Homo sapiens: one gene and its partner. The protein of the gene in region 1 interacts with the protein of each later gene in a biochemical or structural test. Each region holds a gene or a part of one and is shown in the gene's direction. Other genes may lie near its edges.

Evidence for each region.
Region 2: the proteins of SYT9 (region 1) and TRPV1 form a complex in vitro, tested with the Homo sapiens proteins (one study listed by BioGRID).

The regions. Positions count from the first base shown.
Region 1 is NC_000011.10:7,246,873-7,255,350, forward strand, and holds the start of SYT9 (synaptotagmin-9), read left to right. Parts: upstream 1-5,031; 5' UTR 5,032-5,314; coding exon 5,315-5,459; intron 5,460-8,478. UniProt on the Homo sapiens protein: May be involved in Ca(2+)-dependent exocytosis of secretory vesicles through Ca(2+) and phospholipid binding to the C2 domain or may serve as Ca(2+) sensors in the process of vesicular trafficking and exocytosis.
Region 2 is NC_000017.11:3,585,310-3,592,848, reverse strand, and holds part of TRPV1 (transient receptor potential cation channel subfamily V member 1), read left to right. Parts: exon of another isoform or gene 1-465; 5' UTR 466-498; coding exon 499-782; intron 783-1,495; coding exon 1,496-1,662; intron 1,663-1,732; coding exon 1,733-1,885; intron 1,886-2,456; coding exon 2,457-2,597; intron 2,598-2,743; coding exon 2,744-3,042; intron 3,043-4,481; coding exon 4,482-4,661; intron 4,662-6,922; coding exon 6,923-7,081; intron 7,082-7,539.

The DNA.
Region 1 (8,478 bases):
GCATCTATTTTAGTCTTCCAGGGCTACTGTAACAAAATAGCATATACTGGGTGGCTTAAACAATAGAAATTTATTTTCTCACAGTCAGAAGTCTGGGAAGTCCAAGCTCAAGGTTGCAGCCAATTCCATTTCTAGTGAGGGCTTTCTTCCTGGCTTGCAGAGAGCTGCCTTCTCACTGTGTCCTCACATGGCAGAGAGAAAGCAAACTCTTTGATGACTCTTTTTAAAAATTATTTTTTATTTCTATAGGTTATTGGGGAACAGGTGGTGTTTGGTTACATGATTAAATTCTTTAGAGATGATTTGTGAGATATTGGTGCATCCATCACCCAAGCACTATACGCTGCACCCTATTTGAAGTCTTTTATCTCCTGCCCCCTTCCCACCCTTTCCCCTGAGTCCCCAAAGTCCATTGTGTCATTCTTATGTCTTTGCATCCTCACAGCTTAGCTCTGCTTGTGAGTGAGAACATAAGATGTTTGGTTTTCCATTCCTGAGTTACTCCACTTAGAATAATAGCCTCCAGTCTCATCCAGGTCACTATGAATGCCGTTAATTCATTCCTTTTTATGGCTGAGTAGTATTCCATCATATATATATACATATATATATACACACACATATATATACACATATATACATATATACACACATATATACATATATATACACGTATACATGTATATACACATATATACACATATACATATATATGTGTATATATACGTATATATACATATATACGTGTATATATACGTGTATATATACGTGATATATATATATACATATGTATATATACGTATATATGTGTGTATATATATATATATATCACAGTTTCTTTATCCACTCATTGATTGATGGACATTTGGGTCGGTTCTGTGTTTTTGCAATTGTGAATTGTGCTGCTATATACATACATGTGCAAGTATCTTTTTCGTATAATGACCTCTTTTGCTCTGGGTAGATACCCAGTAGTGGGACAGCTGCATCAAATGGTAGTTCTACTTTTAGTTCTTTAAGGCATCTCCACACTGTTTTCCATAGTGGTTGTACCAGTTTACATTCCCATCAGCAATGTAGAATTGTTCCTTGTTCACTGCATCCACACCAACATCTACTGTTTTTTGATTTTTTGATTATGGTCATTCTTGCAGGAGTAAGGTGGTATCGCATTGTGCTTTTGATTTCAATTTCCCTGTTCATTAGTATGTTGACCATTTTTTCATGTTTGTTGGCCATTTGTATATCTTCTTTTGAGAATTGTCTATCCATGTCCTTATCCCACTTTTTGATGGGATTGTTTGTTTTTTTCGTGTTGATTTGTTTGAGTTCGTTGTAGATTCTGGATATTAGTCCTTTGTCAGATGTATAGATTGTGAAGATTTTTCTCCCACTCTGTGAGTTGTCTGTTTACTCTGCTGTTTTTTTTTTCCTGTGCAAAAGCTCTTTAGTTTAATTAAGTCCCAGAAATGTATCTATCTTTGTTTTTATTGCATTTGTTTTTGGGTTCTTGGTCACGAAATCCTTGCCTAAGCCAATGTCTAGAAGAGTTTTTACAATGTTATCTTCCAGAATTTTTATAGTTTCAGCTCTTAGATTTAAGTCCTTAATCCATCTTGAGTTGATTTTTGTATAAGGTGAGAGATGAGGATCCAGTTTCATTCTCCTACATGTGGCTAGCCAATTATTGCAGCACCATTTGTTGAAAAGGGTGTCCTTTCCAAATAAAATACTTAGGAATATACCTAAACAAGGAGGTGAAAGACCTCTACAAGGAAGACTGCAAAACACTGCTGAAAGAGATCAGAGATGACACAAACAAATGGAAACATGTCCCATGCTCACAGATGGATAGAATTAATATTGTGAAAATGACTATACTGCCAAAAGCAATCTACAAATTCAACACAATTCCCATCAAAATACCACCATCATTCTTCATAAAATTACAAAAAACAATTCTAAAATTCATATGGAACCAAAAAAGAGCCCACATAGCCAAAGCAAGACTAAGCAAAAAGAGCAAATCTGGAGGCATCACATTACCTGATTTCAAACTATACTATAAGACCATAGTCACCAAAACAGCATGGTAGTTGTATAAAAATAGGTATACAGACCAATGGAACAGAATAGAGAACCCAGAAATAAACCCAAATACTTACAGCCAGCTGGTTTGATGATTCTTATAAGGAAACTAATCCTATTGGATCAGGGCTCTACCTTTATGACCTCATTTACTCTTAATTAAGTCCTATCTCCAAATACAGTGACATCGGGAATTAGGGCTTCAACATAAGAATTTACAGTTCACTCTATAGCAGTATCTCACTTCCCTTCTGTATGATATTCTTTCTCCACATTGTTTCTCATTCTTCTGGACCCCTCTCCAGCAAGATATCCTGTAAAAGTTGCAAGATCTTTTCAAGTCTAGACTCAGCTCAGAATTTCACTTCTACACATTCTGTTGAATAAAGTGAGTCACAAGGCAGGCCCAAATTCAAGCAGAGGGGAACAGACTTGACTTCTTGATGGGAAGAGTGGTAAAATCACACTCCAAAAGGACACATGGAATTGGAGGGATAGCTATGGCTGTCTTTGGAAACAGTCTACCAATTTGTCCTTGAACAAATTGTTTAACCACCTGATTTTACTTTCTTTGCCTGTAAAATAGGAAATATAGCATCAACCACTTTGGGATGTTGTAAGTAATAGATTAAGAAAGTGTGTTTAGCACCTCGTACATTGTAGTAGAAACATAACAGAAACAGCAAAAACACATATTGGTTGAGCCCATACTATGTGGCAGCACTATTACAAGCACTTAAATATATTGCTTTATGTAATCTTTGTAACAGCCCAAAGATACACGTTATCTTTGAGATAAGATGAGAAACCCTAGGCACAAAAATGTTAACTTGCACAAGGTTGGTTGCATAGTAACTAGTCTGTCTAAATCTTGAATGTCTTACTGTCTACTTTATCCAAAGGACACTTTTTAGTTTTTTCTCTTTAAACTATATTTGAAAGTTTACAGTTGATGTTGCTCGCTCCTCTACCAAACACTCCTCCTCCCGTGATCCCTATGACTCCCCTCTGTACAATCTTTCCTCCTGTTCTCATTGCTACCTTCCAATCTCCTCTTTCATTTCTTCAACTCTTCTTTCTTGAAGGAACCATCCCATGTGGCAACTCAGTTTCTACCTTTCCAATGATGATTGCCAGTCTTCACTCTCTCCTAAACTCTAGGCTTGCATTTCTAAGTGTTATTAGGGTGTGAGCACATATGACCCAGGTAACGTTTTGAAACGTTTGTGCCTTTCACTTCTTTCTTATTCCATTGGTTGCAATCTTGTCACTTAATACTTGAAATGTTTTTCAAATTTGGATGTTTCTAGCAATCAGCTAATGCCTTTGGCCTGGTTTAGGCCTTCATCATCTCTTGCCTGGTTTATCAAAGTCATTTTTTAACTGAACTTGTTGCTTTCAGTTCCTCTCTGACATGATGGCATTAGGGTAATATTTCCATGTGCTTCAACACACATACCTTCTCACCATTACTATATGTCCCCCCCGCCACCCCCCCCCAGCATCACACTATCTCTGGTGTCACCTTCTCTGTTCATGGCCTTTTTCTTCTTCTCTAGGGGTTCCCCCCTTTGAAGAAACAGCATCTGCTCAACCTCCCCTACAGGCTCCCTTAAAGCTGGTTTCTCCTCCCTCTGTTTGTCTCTTTGCAACTCTCTGGAGGCATCTTTACCTTTACAACTTTGCATTTTCTCTGCTATTCCCATGTAAGTTCCCTGAAACCCTAGTACCATTCACAGCAGGATTTCAAAGGTTGCCTGTTGCGTGAGCATTCTATAGGATCCCAAATTATCTTTCTGTGCAAATATGAATTGTTGTGATATGTCCGTAGAGACGGCACAACCTCATGGCTAAGAATGATAGTTACCAGTTCTAGAGATCCTACTCTAATTGCTCTAGAGTGGGGGCCTGAACACCAGTATTACAAAAAAGACAAAAGAAAAAGAAGGAAAAAAGAAAAAAGAAAGAGAGAAAATCAAAGCTACCTTCATCATGTATGAATTTGAGCAAGTAACACCTTTGTGAGTCCCCAGGCCCCAGTTTCTCATTGGTAAAATGAGGATAACAATTACACAGACCTTGTTGGGCTATGTACAGAATTAAATGAGATTATGTACCTAAAAGGCTTGTGGCACAGTGACACACACACACACACACACACACACACACACACCCAGAGTACTTCGTGGTTATTTCTAGGCTTTACTGCTTGAAAGGCTGAAAAGATGGGTGGATGAGAGGTGCCCTGAGGTTCCTTCCAACTCTCCAAGATTCTGTGATACTCCTCCTTGGGTGCTGAAGACACTTTGGCAATGTTTGGATTTCCAAACGGTTGCTTAGAAAACTAAGGGACCCACGAAGCCCAGGTAAGCCTCAGGGTCTTTCCCAGGAATCGTTTATTTATTTGATCTTAGTTCTGACCTAGAGCCTCCACCTTCTCCATCCAAATCACCACAGTGGTCGAAAAGGGCCTGTGCTTGGGAAATCCTTCCTTTGTTGGCGAATCTTGGACCCAAACCCTGCATTTGGGCATCTGACACCCATAGGCCCATGGTTCAAACCCAGGCGGCTCTTTCCAAGTTCGAAGCAGGGACTCGGTTCTGCGCATCTGGCGGGTGTGCCCAGATTGTAACCTTCGCACTAGGCATCCAAGAACGTGCTTTGGACACACTCGGCGGTGGGAGCGGGTGCTTGGTTTGCATCAGGGATGAGGGGTGGAGTAGCGAAAGCGCCCGGAGCGCGCACTCACTCACACTCCCCAAGCCAGGGCGCGGCCGCTCTGGGCGCGAGGTCCCAAGCCAAGTCTCGCGCTCGGCCAGGAGCCGGGGAGTACCCCAGGTCCCCGGTCTGGGGCCGCCGCTATCCTACCCTGCGGCGCGCACTCCTGACCTGGCCCCGCCCCCCGGCGGCCGCGAGTAGCGGGCGGAGCGCAAGCAGAGAGGCGCTCTGGGCTGTGCGGCACCGCCTCTCCTCGGTGTCTGGGGAGGGACGGAGGGACCGGGCGGGAGAGAGAGAAAGCCTGACCGACCGGCTGGCGAAGAGCTGCATGCAACCGGTGGGAGGCCGGGCCGGCTGGGTCTGGGGCTCGGGCTCAGGCTCGCACCGTTTCTCGGCAGGTCCCTGGCGGTGAGCGCGGACGGCCCGGAGGCGGCGGCTCTGAGCTGGCAGGCGGAGGGCTGTCTCCTGCGCCCGCCTGCCCGGCGCGGTCCGAGGATGCGGGGGGGCGATGCCCGGGGCCAGGGACGCGCTCTGTCACCAGGCGCTGCAGCTGCTGGCCGAGCTCTGTGCCCGTGGGGCCCTGGAGCACGACAGCTGCCAGGATTTCATTTACCACCTGCGGGACCGTGCCAGACCCCGGCTCCGCGACCCAGGTGAGTGCCGCCACCGCCGCCTGGAGGGACCTAAGGGCCCTGGGCTGGGACTTGGGGCCGCACCGGGGCCTGAGGCAGAACAGCGACGCGGACTGGGAGAGGGCGGGGGGCGGCCACCGAGCCAGGAGAGTGATCAAGAACCAGCGCACTGTGGCCTGATGCTGTAACCAGGCGGGGACCCGGGCGGTGGCTACTGCACGGAGGCCGACTCCGGGTCGGCTAGGGCAGGGTTGGAGGGACCACGCCCGCCACCTGCGCTCCCATCGCCAAGGCTCCTGGGGGCGGCTCCCTAGCTCCGAGCTACGCTCTCCACTTCCCGGGCTATCTGCACTCAGAGCGAGGGGAGGCCGCGGCGGCCTCGGAGCCGTGGGAAGGGGGACGAGGCCGAAGGAAACTCTGGGAAGTTGGGAGTTGGGGACGGCCCCGGGTTGGGGCCGAATCCCACCGGGTGCTGCTCATCCTTTCTCCCAAGCGTCTAGTTCCTTTCCTTGGTATGGGGTGAGAAGGGCGGGACGCGATCCGGCGTTGGGCCGGGGACAGGGTGCTTCTGGCCTTGGGCAGACGGGCCTGAACCCGTTCCCGGCGGGTCGCACGGCATGGAGGTGGCCTGGGCCTGGGCGCTAGGCTCGACCAGCGACTACCGCCGGCCACGATGGGGTTCGTAGACTCGTCGGTCCTGGCTTGTGCACCTGTAGTTACTCCTAGTGAAAGTTGCAAAGCTCTTAACTTTGGAAAGTTCATTTATTTTGGCATTTGACCAATTAAGGTTGGAGGAGGGAGTTTTAGTGGAGCCATTTGCTTTTCCTGAGGTCCCTGGGTCTCCCAGGTCGTCTCATCCGTTACTGGCTACTGGAAAATGCATTCCTTCCAATGTTTGCTTGAGATGTTTCTCACCTGGAGAAATAGTTTTCTCGAATATTCTCCCAACCTAAGTACTTACCAAAACAGCATATTGTGGTTGGATTGTTAAAAATGGGATGAGAAAATGGCCTTTCTCTTGATATTGCTATGTATAAATATTGGAAATGAGCTATTGCCTTGCAAATTATGATGTACGAATTGAAAACAATTTATTATATAAAAATCCATTTATCCAAAAGATAAATTAAAGAATTATTTGATTTATAAAGAGTGTCACACTGAGCCAGACTTAAATAGCATATCCTTGATATATTCAAGATGGTCGTGTGGGGTGAAGTCATCTGCTAAAATTTTAAAGTTTATATCAGATTTTCCCTACCAGAGGCTTTTTTTTCCTATTGAAAAAGAAAAAAATATTGTTTTCCATTGCCGGTGGTTATATTAACTAAGTTTATTGAATGATCATTGATATATTACTTCAAAGTGGATAATTGGGTAGAGAAATACTGATCCCAGTGGTTTCCAGGGAGGTTTAATGTCCAGCCTATGTGCATCTCATTGCTGGATGTGATGTGCTGAATAAACCACAGTCCCTTATCTCACAAGCTGGAGTCCCAGGAAGATGTCTTAAGTCGGGGAAGTTCGTCCTTAAGCAGCAGAAGCAAGACAATTATTTTGCATGCTTTGCCCAAAGCAAGTATTAGTATTGAAACATCTCACTTCCTTGCCTGTGACCAGACCACGAGTTCTCCTTGTTATCCCACATAAGCAGTTGTCTTTGGCTTTACAAGAGAAGATGGATGAGGCCTATCTCTGAATCACATCTTTTTGGCCAGTTTTCTGCTTCTACTCCTTTTAATCCGGGAGCTGGATCCTGTGTTCTCAGATTCTCTTCAGCCCCTACACCAGGCAACCCCTGAGAAAGAGTCACTAAGTAGGCTTCTTACAAGAGGAAATCTGATTCCTTGGCGGAGGAATAGCTAGAGATAGGAGTCGACCTTGCTGCTCTGAGTTCCTGATAGCAGTGCTCTGCTTTCTTAAACTAGGACACAAGGGTTTTGAAGTAGCCCCATGCCCCTGTGGCTCTTTGGTTTTTGTTGGAAAGTAGCCAGCTCATGAGGACAGGGGTGGGGGTTTTCGAGTGCAAGGTGAGAGGAAATGAGGCCAAAGATTACATCCAAAGTGCACCCTCTCCTTCAGGACACTTCTCCCTTCATTTCCAAATCTCCCTTCATTTCCCTCCTTCCTTGCCTTGCCGACATTAATTCTTACATCAGATGCATTTGTCTTCATCCCTCTGAAGCAAGAGTGTCTTTAATCTCGGAACCCTAAAAGCTGAGTAGTAGAAAAGCTGCACCACACAACGCCGTGTGAATAATGTCCCTGCTGTTGATAGTGTGAACCAGAACAACCATGCACAGCAGCCCTGAGACATGGGTTCCTAGAGAGAGTCATCTCGGTAAATGGATGACTTCTTTTTCTGGAAAGGAATCCACCTGAATGCCATGTCCCAGCTTTCTCTGTTATTGTCCATTCACGGCCACCCTGTGATAGCTAGGTTTTCTCAAGCTGAACTAAGGACTTTGGTTATAAAAGGAGAAAAAAGATATAATTTCCTGTGGACAGCAAAGTGACCCTGCATCTAGGAAATTTACTCATTTTTTCAGAGGTGTGGAAAGACTAGGGCACAGACCAGCGGGCCTGAGCCATCAGAAAGGTTCTTTTTTGTCCAGGTAGTTATAGTGCCCTGTTGGGGGAGTACCGCACCCAGATTTCCCTGACTTGGTGTTCACAGAGGACTTGATGCAATTGTGGTTTAAAAAAATAAGCCTAAGTCACAGTTGGAACTGAAGTGCCTCACCCAGTCTGTCATCTGTACCAACTTGTGGAAAGGAAAGTGCTGAGTGTGAGCACTTTTGTCCATAGAAAGCAATTAGAATGCTCTGTTGGTTGCCTTTATGGTGTTTTATATGTTAATGATGTGGGACATAAACTTGCAGGCCTCAGAGACTAGCCTTTAAGGCAGAGGGAACAGCAAGCGCAAAGGCCCTGAAGTGGTAGCATTATTGATATGATTCTAGAAATGGTGACTTCAGAGGTGGCTGGAGAGGTGTGAAACAGATGGAGAGTGATAAGACGTGTATGGTCAAGAGTTAGA
Region 2 (7,539 bases), on another chromosome or scaffold:
TCTGCTTGGCTCTTCTGGACTGAGCCATCCTCATCACCGAGATCCTCCCTGAATTCAGCCCACGACAGCCACCCCGGCCGTTTTCCTTGTTCTGTGTGGGGAGGGAGGCAGCGCGGTGGTTATCAACCTCACCCTGCAGAGGAGGCACCTGAGGCCCAGAGACGAGGAGGGATGGGTCTAACCCAGAACCACAGATGGCTCTGAGCCGGGGGCCTGTCCACCCTCCCAGGCCGACGTCAGTGGCCGCAGGACTGCCTGGGCCCTGCTAGGCCTGCTCACCTCTGAGGCCTCTGGGGTGAGAGGTTCAGTCCTGGAAACACTTCAGTTCTAGGGGGCTGGGGGCAGCAGCAAGTTGGAGTTTTGGGGTACCCTGCTTCACAGGGCCCTTGGCAAGGAGGGCAGGTGGGGTCTAAGGACAAGCAGTCCTTACTTTGGGAGTCAACCCCGGCGTGGTGGCTGCTGCAGGTTGCACACTGGGCCACAGAGGATCCAGCAAGGATGAAGAAATGGAGCAGCACAGACTTGGGGGCAGCTGCGGACCCACTCCAAAAGGACACCTGCCCAGACCCCCTGGATGGAGACCCTAACTCCAGGCCACCTCCAGCCAAGCCCCAGCTCTCCACGGCCAAGAGCCGCACCCGGCTCTTTGGGAAGGGTGACTCGGAGGAGGCTTTCCCGGTGGATTGCCCTCACGAGGAAGGTGAGCTGGACTCCTGCCCGACCATCACAGTCAGCCCTGTTATCACCATCCAGAGGCCAGGAGACGGCCCCACCGGTGCCAGGTAAGTCCGCGTCTGGAGCCCCCCTCCCTGCTGGGAGCCCAGCTGGCCATGGAGATGCCACAGGGTGGTCTGGCTTCTGGGCTAAATGTCACAAAGCCAGGGGGCTGGAGAGCCTTAGGGGTGGTCTGGTCCAGCGTCCTTCCTCATGTGACCTCGTGGGATGTGCAGTCACGGGGGCTGGTGTCTGTGCTGGGTCTAGGTGTCCACGCCCGCAATGCCTACCAGCCACAGACACTTGGACTTGAAGTCTAAAAGCTCAAGGGCAGGAGGCTTTTGGAGAGCACAGCACAGCTCCAGTGAGCTGCAAGGCAGGGCAGGGAGGGCCACAGGCTGGCTGACTTCTGGGGAGTGTGAGGCCACCTTTTCCCTTAGAGGGGCTGTCTACACCCCTGCCTCCACCTCCCTCCGTCCCCACCAGGCTCCTGCCTCCCGAGCTCCCGAGCAGGCAGAGAAGCCAGTGGTCTGGGAGTAGGAGGGTGACTTTCTAGATGGTGTCTATAGACAGGGTGGGGACAGAATGGGGACACATGCCCTCCACTGTCCCTGTTACATTGCTTTTCTGGACAGTCACCTAGACTGAGGGGCAGCTTTTATATCATTTTTCCCCTTTTTGGTTTGCCTTGGGATTTAGTCGTGTTCCCTTGACAAGCTCCGAAGGCCTCAGGGCCGAGGGGAGGCCAGGGTATGAGACGAGCGTGTTTTCTGGCCCACAGGCTGCTGTCCCAGGACTCTGTCGCCGCCAGCACCGAGAAGACCCTCAGGCTCTATGATCGCAGGAGTATCTTTGAAGCCGTTGCTCAGAATAACTGCCAGGATCTGGAGAGCCTGCTGCTCTTCCTGCAGAAGAGCAAGAAGCACCTCACAGACAACGAGTTCAAAGGTGGCCCCAGCGCTGGGCTCGGGGAGGGCCCCAGCCCTGGCCTGCCCTGACCCTCCCTTATGTCTTTCAGACCCTGAGACAGGGAAGACCTGTCTGCTGAAAGCCATGCTCAACCTGCACGACGGACAGAACACCACCATCCCCCTGCTCCTGGAGATCGCGCGGCAAACGGACAGCCTGAAGGAGCTTGTCAACGCCAGCTACACGGACAGCTACTACAAGGGTGAGGAGGGCGGCGGGGCCGGGCATGGCTCAGCCCGCAGCACCGGGAAGCAGGGGGGCATGGTTGTCCCTGGGCCTCCTTGCTTCTCTGGGATCCTTACTCCCTGTCCCAGCCACTGCGTTGGTGGCTCCTAATCCTAGGGGGTCCCTGCCTCTCCCATCTGCTGGCTTGATTTCTCCTGGTCCTGGGGGTCTCTGCCTCCCCGATCTGATGTCTCCTCTCTTGACCCTGAGAAGTCCCTGCCTCCCCCTGCTGACTGGATGGTCCCTGTCCCTGGAAGTCACAGCCTCTGGCCTTTCTCTCTGCTGCTGTTCCTTGCCCCCGGGGCAATTTTGACTCCTCTGGCTTCCAACCCGTTATTTCCTGTTCCCAGGGGTCTCCTGTCTCAGGACCTTGCTGGGACCCCTTGGGGGACCCTGGCCTGGCCTCCTGCAGTGGGGGGGTCCTCCAGGCACTTTCTGCCCAGTTCCTCCTGCAGCAGCTGCTGCCTGCCCAGAGCCCTTCCCCAGCACCTGTCCCGGCAGCCCCACAGGACCGTGACCACGAAGCCAACCGTGCGCGTCCTCTGTAGGCCAGACAGCACTGCACATCGCCATCGAGAGACGCAACATGGCCCTGGTGACCCTCCTGGTGGAGAACGGAGCAGACGTCCAGGCTGCGGCCCATGGGGACTTCTTTAAGAAAACCAAAGGGCGGCCTGGATTCTACTTCGGTAGGGAGACAGTGTGGCAGACCCTGATCTTTTTGGCTTTTGCTAAGGGGAGGTTTGGGCAGAGACAGAGGGAGTTTGGAGGCCGGTGGTTCAGGGGCCAGCTGGATCTCACTCCTGAGGCCCACCTGGGCCCTGTGTTCATGCAGGTGAACTGCCCCTGTCCCTGGCCGCGTGCACCAACCAGCTGGGCATCGTGAAGTTCCTGCTGCAGAACTCCTGGCAGACGGCCGACATCAGCGCCAGGGACTCGGTGGGCAACACGGTGCTGCACGCCCTGGTGGAGGTGGCCGACAACACGGCCGACAACACGAAGTTTGTGACGAGCATGTACAATGAGATTCTGATGCTGGGGGCCAAACTGCACCCGACGCTGAAGCTGGAGGAGCTCACCAACAAGAAGGGAATGACGCCGCTGGCTCTGGCAGCTGGGACCGGGAAGATCGGGGTAAGAGGGGGCTTCGGCTCAGGCTGGTGCGGTGCGGGGCTGATGGCATGGGAGAGGACTGCCTGACTCACTGCGGGAGCCTGGCGTCGCTATCTGTGTGTGCGGGACTCTGATTCTGTCATACCAGCCTGTAGGGCTGTTAGAATAAGTCTGAGAAATTGGGAGCCACAGGGCAGAACCCTGCAATGGCCAACGTGCCATTTTGAATTTCCAGCTCTGAGTATCAGCAACAAGACATGGGGTGGGGTAGGGTGCTGGGCAATGGAGGAGGGACTGCCTAGGGTGGAACAGAAGAATAGCTGTTGGGCTGGGCACGGTGACTCACTCTTGTAATCCCAGCATTTTGGGAGGCCGACGTGGGTGGATCACCTGAGGTTAGGAGTTCGAGACCAGCCTGACCAACCTGGTGAAACCTCTACTAAATATACAAAAATTAGCCAGGCATGGTGGCAGGTGCCTACAATTCCAGCTACTCAGGAGGCTGAGGCACAAACATCACTTGAACTTGGGAGGCGGAGGTGGCAGTGAGCCAAGATTTTGCCACCGCACTCTAGCCTGTGTGACAGAGCAAGACTCTGTCTCAAAAAAAAAAAAAAAGGAAAAAGAAAAAAGCTGTTGGTGTTTTTCCATGGCAGGCAGGAGCATGGCAGGCAGGAGCTTTAGGTAACAAGGCTGATGGCTCCAGCTCCCAGCTCCAGCTGGTGGCTCCTGGTGACAGGCCTCCAGCTCTTGGCCTCAAGTGATCCTTCCACCTCAGCCTCCCAAGTAGCTGGGATTACAGGCATGAGCCACCCCATCTGGCTCTCATTTCTTGCATTCTCTTTCTTTCTTTCTGGCTTGAGGTTATCGAGAATGGACCACCGCTGTCCTTCATGGTGAGATGGTAGAGCTGGGGCCTCGCCGTGAGGGGATTGTGGGCCTGATATGGTGCAGGTAGTATCTGAGGCAGCTGGCTGGTTGACGTTTGTGTGTTTTGTTTTTTTTTTTTTTTTTAGATGAGGTTTCGCTCTTGTTGCCCAGGCTGGAGAGCAGTGGCACAATCTCGGCTCACTGCAACCTCTGCCTATCAGGTTCAAGTGATTCTCCTGTCTCGGCCTCTCAAGTAGCCGGGATTACAGGAACACGCCACCATGCCCGGCTAATTTTTTTTTTGTATTTTCAGTAAAAACAGGATTTTGCCATGTTGGCCAGGCTGGTCTCAAAATCCTGACCTCAGGTGATCCACCCGCCTCAGCCTCCCAAAGTGCTGGGATTACAGGCATGAGCCACCCGTGCCCGGCCGGCTGGTTGATCTCAGTGGTGGTCAGGAGTGGGTGGGGACTCGCCTGGGGCTTAGGTGGGGCCACCAGCTGGGCTGGGAAGCAGAGCTGGTTGTTGAGGTACTGTCTGAGGCTGAGCCTGGGGCTGGCCTCTGACGGGCTCTTGCTCCCCGGGGGCAGGTCTTGGCCTATATTCTCCAGCGGGAGATCCAGGAGCCCGAGTGCAGGCACCTGTCCAGGAAGTTCACCGAGTGGGCCTACGGGCCCGTGCACTCCTCGCTGTACGACCTGTCCTGCATCGACACCTGCGAGAAGAACTCGGTGCTGGAGGTGATCGCCTACAGCAGCAGCGAGACCCCTGTGAGTGGCTGGGGCACAGCCAGGGAGGGCCTCAGGGCCTCTGCACCCAAGCCCCAATCCCAGCCCCTGGTCCAGCTCCAGCTGGCTTCTCAGGAGGGAAAGCCTGCTGCGCCCGGGCCCAGGCCCTGCAGCCTCACGTTCCCCACTCATGCCCACTGAATTTTCCCTAAGCATAGCAACCATACGTGATTATCATCCCATAAAAACAGAAACGTTTCAGAGGGACATGGACAAAAGGACCCTCCTTTTATACTATTTAAAAATGCACAGTTTCATTTTGTTTACATAAATGAGATCAGACTATACACAATGTACAACAACCTTTTTTTTTTTTCACTTGATGGCAGGGCGTGTAGATTTTTCTTTTTTTTTTTGAGACGAAGTTTTGCTCTTGTTACCCAGGCTGGAGTGAAATGGTGCCATCCCGGCTCACTGCAACCTCTATCTCCCGGGTTCAAGCGATTCTCCTCGAATCCGAAGTAGCTGGGATTACAGGCATGCGCCACCAGGCCCTGCTAATTTTTTGTATTTAATAGAGACAGGATTTCTCCATGTTGGTCAGGGTGGTCTCGAACTCTTGACCTCAGGTGATCCGCCCTCCTTGGCTTCCCAAAGTGCTGGGATCACAGGTGTGAACCACTGCGCCAGGCCAAGAACTTATTTTTGTGTAGGTGTGAAGTAGGCATCTTACTTAAATATTTTGGCTCCAAATGAATGTCTTAGTGTTACGTAGTGAGTAATCCATCCTGCCACGCTGTTTGGAAAGGCCACCTTATCTGTCCCTTCTTTCTAAGGTGATGCTCTGAGCTCCTAAGGCAGACTTGGGGGCTAGAGTCTGTGCCATCAGCAGTGAGGGGCTTCCACGACATCTCACAGGTCAGAGGTTGCGTTTACAGGAGCAGAGTCCGGGGCTGGGAAAGGCCTGGTCTGCTCTGCCTCCCCTGGGCTGCCATGCTGAACCTGGGCCTCCAACTCAGAGTGCTGGATACAAGTGTTCCCAGAGGAGAGGTCCAGATAGGAGGTGGCCTCAACAAGGACTGCAGTATTTGACCTGGGGGAGAGGCTCTGGGACCACCACTGACATCTTCATGTCTCTAAAGGCTCTCAGGGACAAGGAGTGTGGACTTGTCCTGGGGACCCTAGGGCAGAGCCAGGACCACTAGTGGAAAGTAGAGAAGACCAAAGAAGAGGTATTCCCTACAGGCAGTGAGTCTCCATAGGCCTCTTGAGGCAGTAAGGAGTTTCCCATTCCCAAAGGCATTCAAGAAGACACTGATCAGGAACCTCTTTGAGGGAGCTTAAGTTTGGGGTGGGGGTTGGACTCGATGGCCTGAGGGAGGCTGGGATGATCTGATTTTGGCTCATCAGTCTCAGGGATACTTGAACTTATTTTTATTTTATTTTATTTTATATTTTGAGACAGAGTCTTGCTCTGTCACCCAGGTTGGAGTGCAATGGCGTGATCTCAGCTCACTGCAACTTCTGCTTCCTGGGGTTCAAGCAGTTCTCCCACCTCAGCCTCCCAAGTAGCTGGGATTACAGGCACCCACCACCATGCCTGGCTAATTTTTGTATTTTTGTAGAGAAGGAGTTTCACCACGTTGGCCAAGCTGGTCTTGAACTCCAGACTTCAAGTGATCCACCTGCCTCGGCCTCCCAGAGTGCTGGGATTACAGGCGTGAGCCACTACACCCGGCCTATTTGAACTTTATCAAAGTCTCTGGATATGAGACATTTGCCCCAAAGCATACTTGTAATGATGGCATGAGGCACTGGGCCCTCCTGGGGCAGGAAGGGCCTCCTAGTTCCCTGCCTCCCTGCCGCCCTGCCTGACCCAGGGCTGGAAACGTGAGAAGTGAGGACCCAGAGGCTCTTTCCTGCCTGCCCTGAGCCCCTCATGCCCAGGCTCTGCCTAAGCCAACTACTTCCCATTACTGTGGGCTCTCGGGAGGGAGTTATTAGACACAACGGGCAGTGCGGTGGGCCATTAAGTGAGCACTTAAGAGCTTGTCCAGTTTCACCCCATTCACTGCACCTCTGGGGACACTGAGGCCAAGAGGGCAGGTCCCTCCGTGAGCCGCGGCAGTGCTGGGACCAGCCCCAGGCTATGGCTGCCGGCTGGCTCAGACCTCCCATCTCACCTGCTCCGTGGGCTGAGGACTGTGCGGGCCACATGGCTGTGAGGGGCACCACGGGCTGGTGTGGGCGTGCGAGGAGTTCCTGCTGCAGGAGGGAACCTCACTTCTCTCCCCACCCCCTAGAATCGCCACGACATGCTCTTGGTGGAGCCGCTGAACCGACTCCTGCAGGACAAGTGGGACAGATTCGTCAAGCGCATCTTCTACTTCAACTTCCTGGTCTACTGCCTGTACATGATCATCTTCACCATGGCTGCCTACTACAGGCCCGTGGATGGCTTGGTGCGGCCAGAGGCTCAGGCCTCGTGGGCGAGGGTGTGGGTGGTGGGGAAGGGGTGTGGACATTTCGGGAGACCTCCCCGACCCCAGGCCCAGGCTCTGCCCTGGACTCCTTCCCAGCTTGCGGGAGCGATGGATGGAGAACGTGGAGAACCTCGTATCCCTGCGCCCATCTCCCCTGCCTCAGGCTGTACAGGAGACCCGCCCCCTTCCCGCTTCTCAGTTCCTCTCCTTTAACCTTGAGGTCCTGTGGGGCTGAGTGTGTGGTGACTCAGGTCCCTGATTGTAGACGGGGTGTACTCGGTTAGAAAGCATGCAGGGGCCGGGCATGGTGGCTCATGCCTGTAATCCCAGCACTTTGGGAGGCTGAGGTGGGCAGATCACCTGAGGTCTGGAGTTTGAGACCAGCCTGACCAACATGGTGAAACCCCGTCTCTACTAAAAACACCAAATTAACTGGG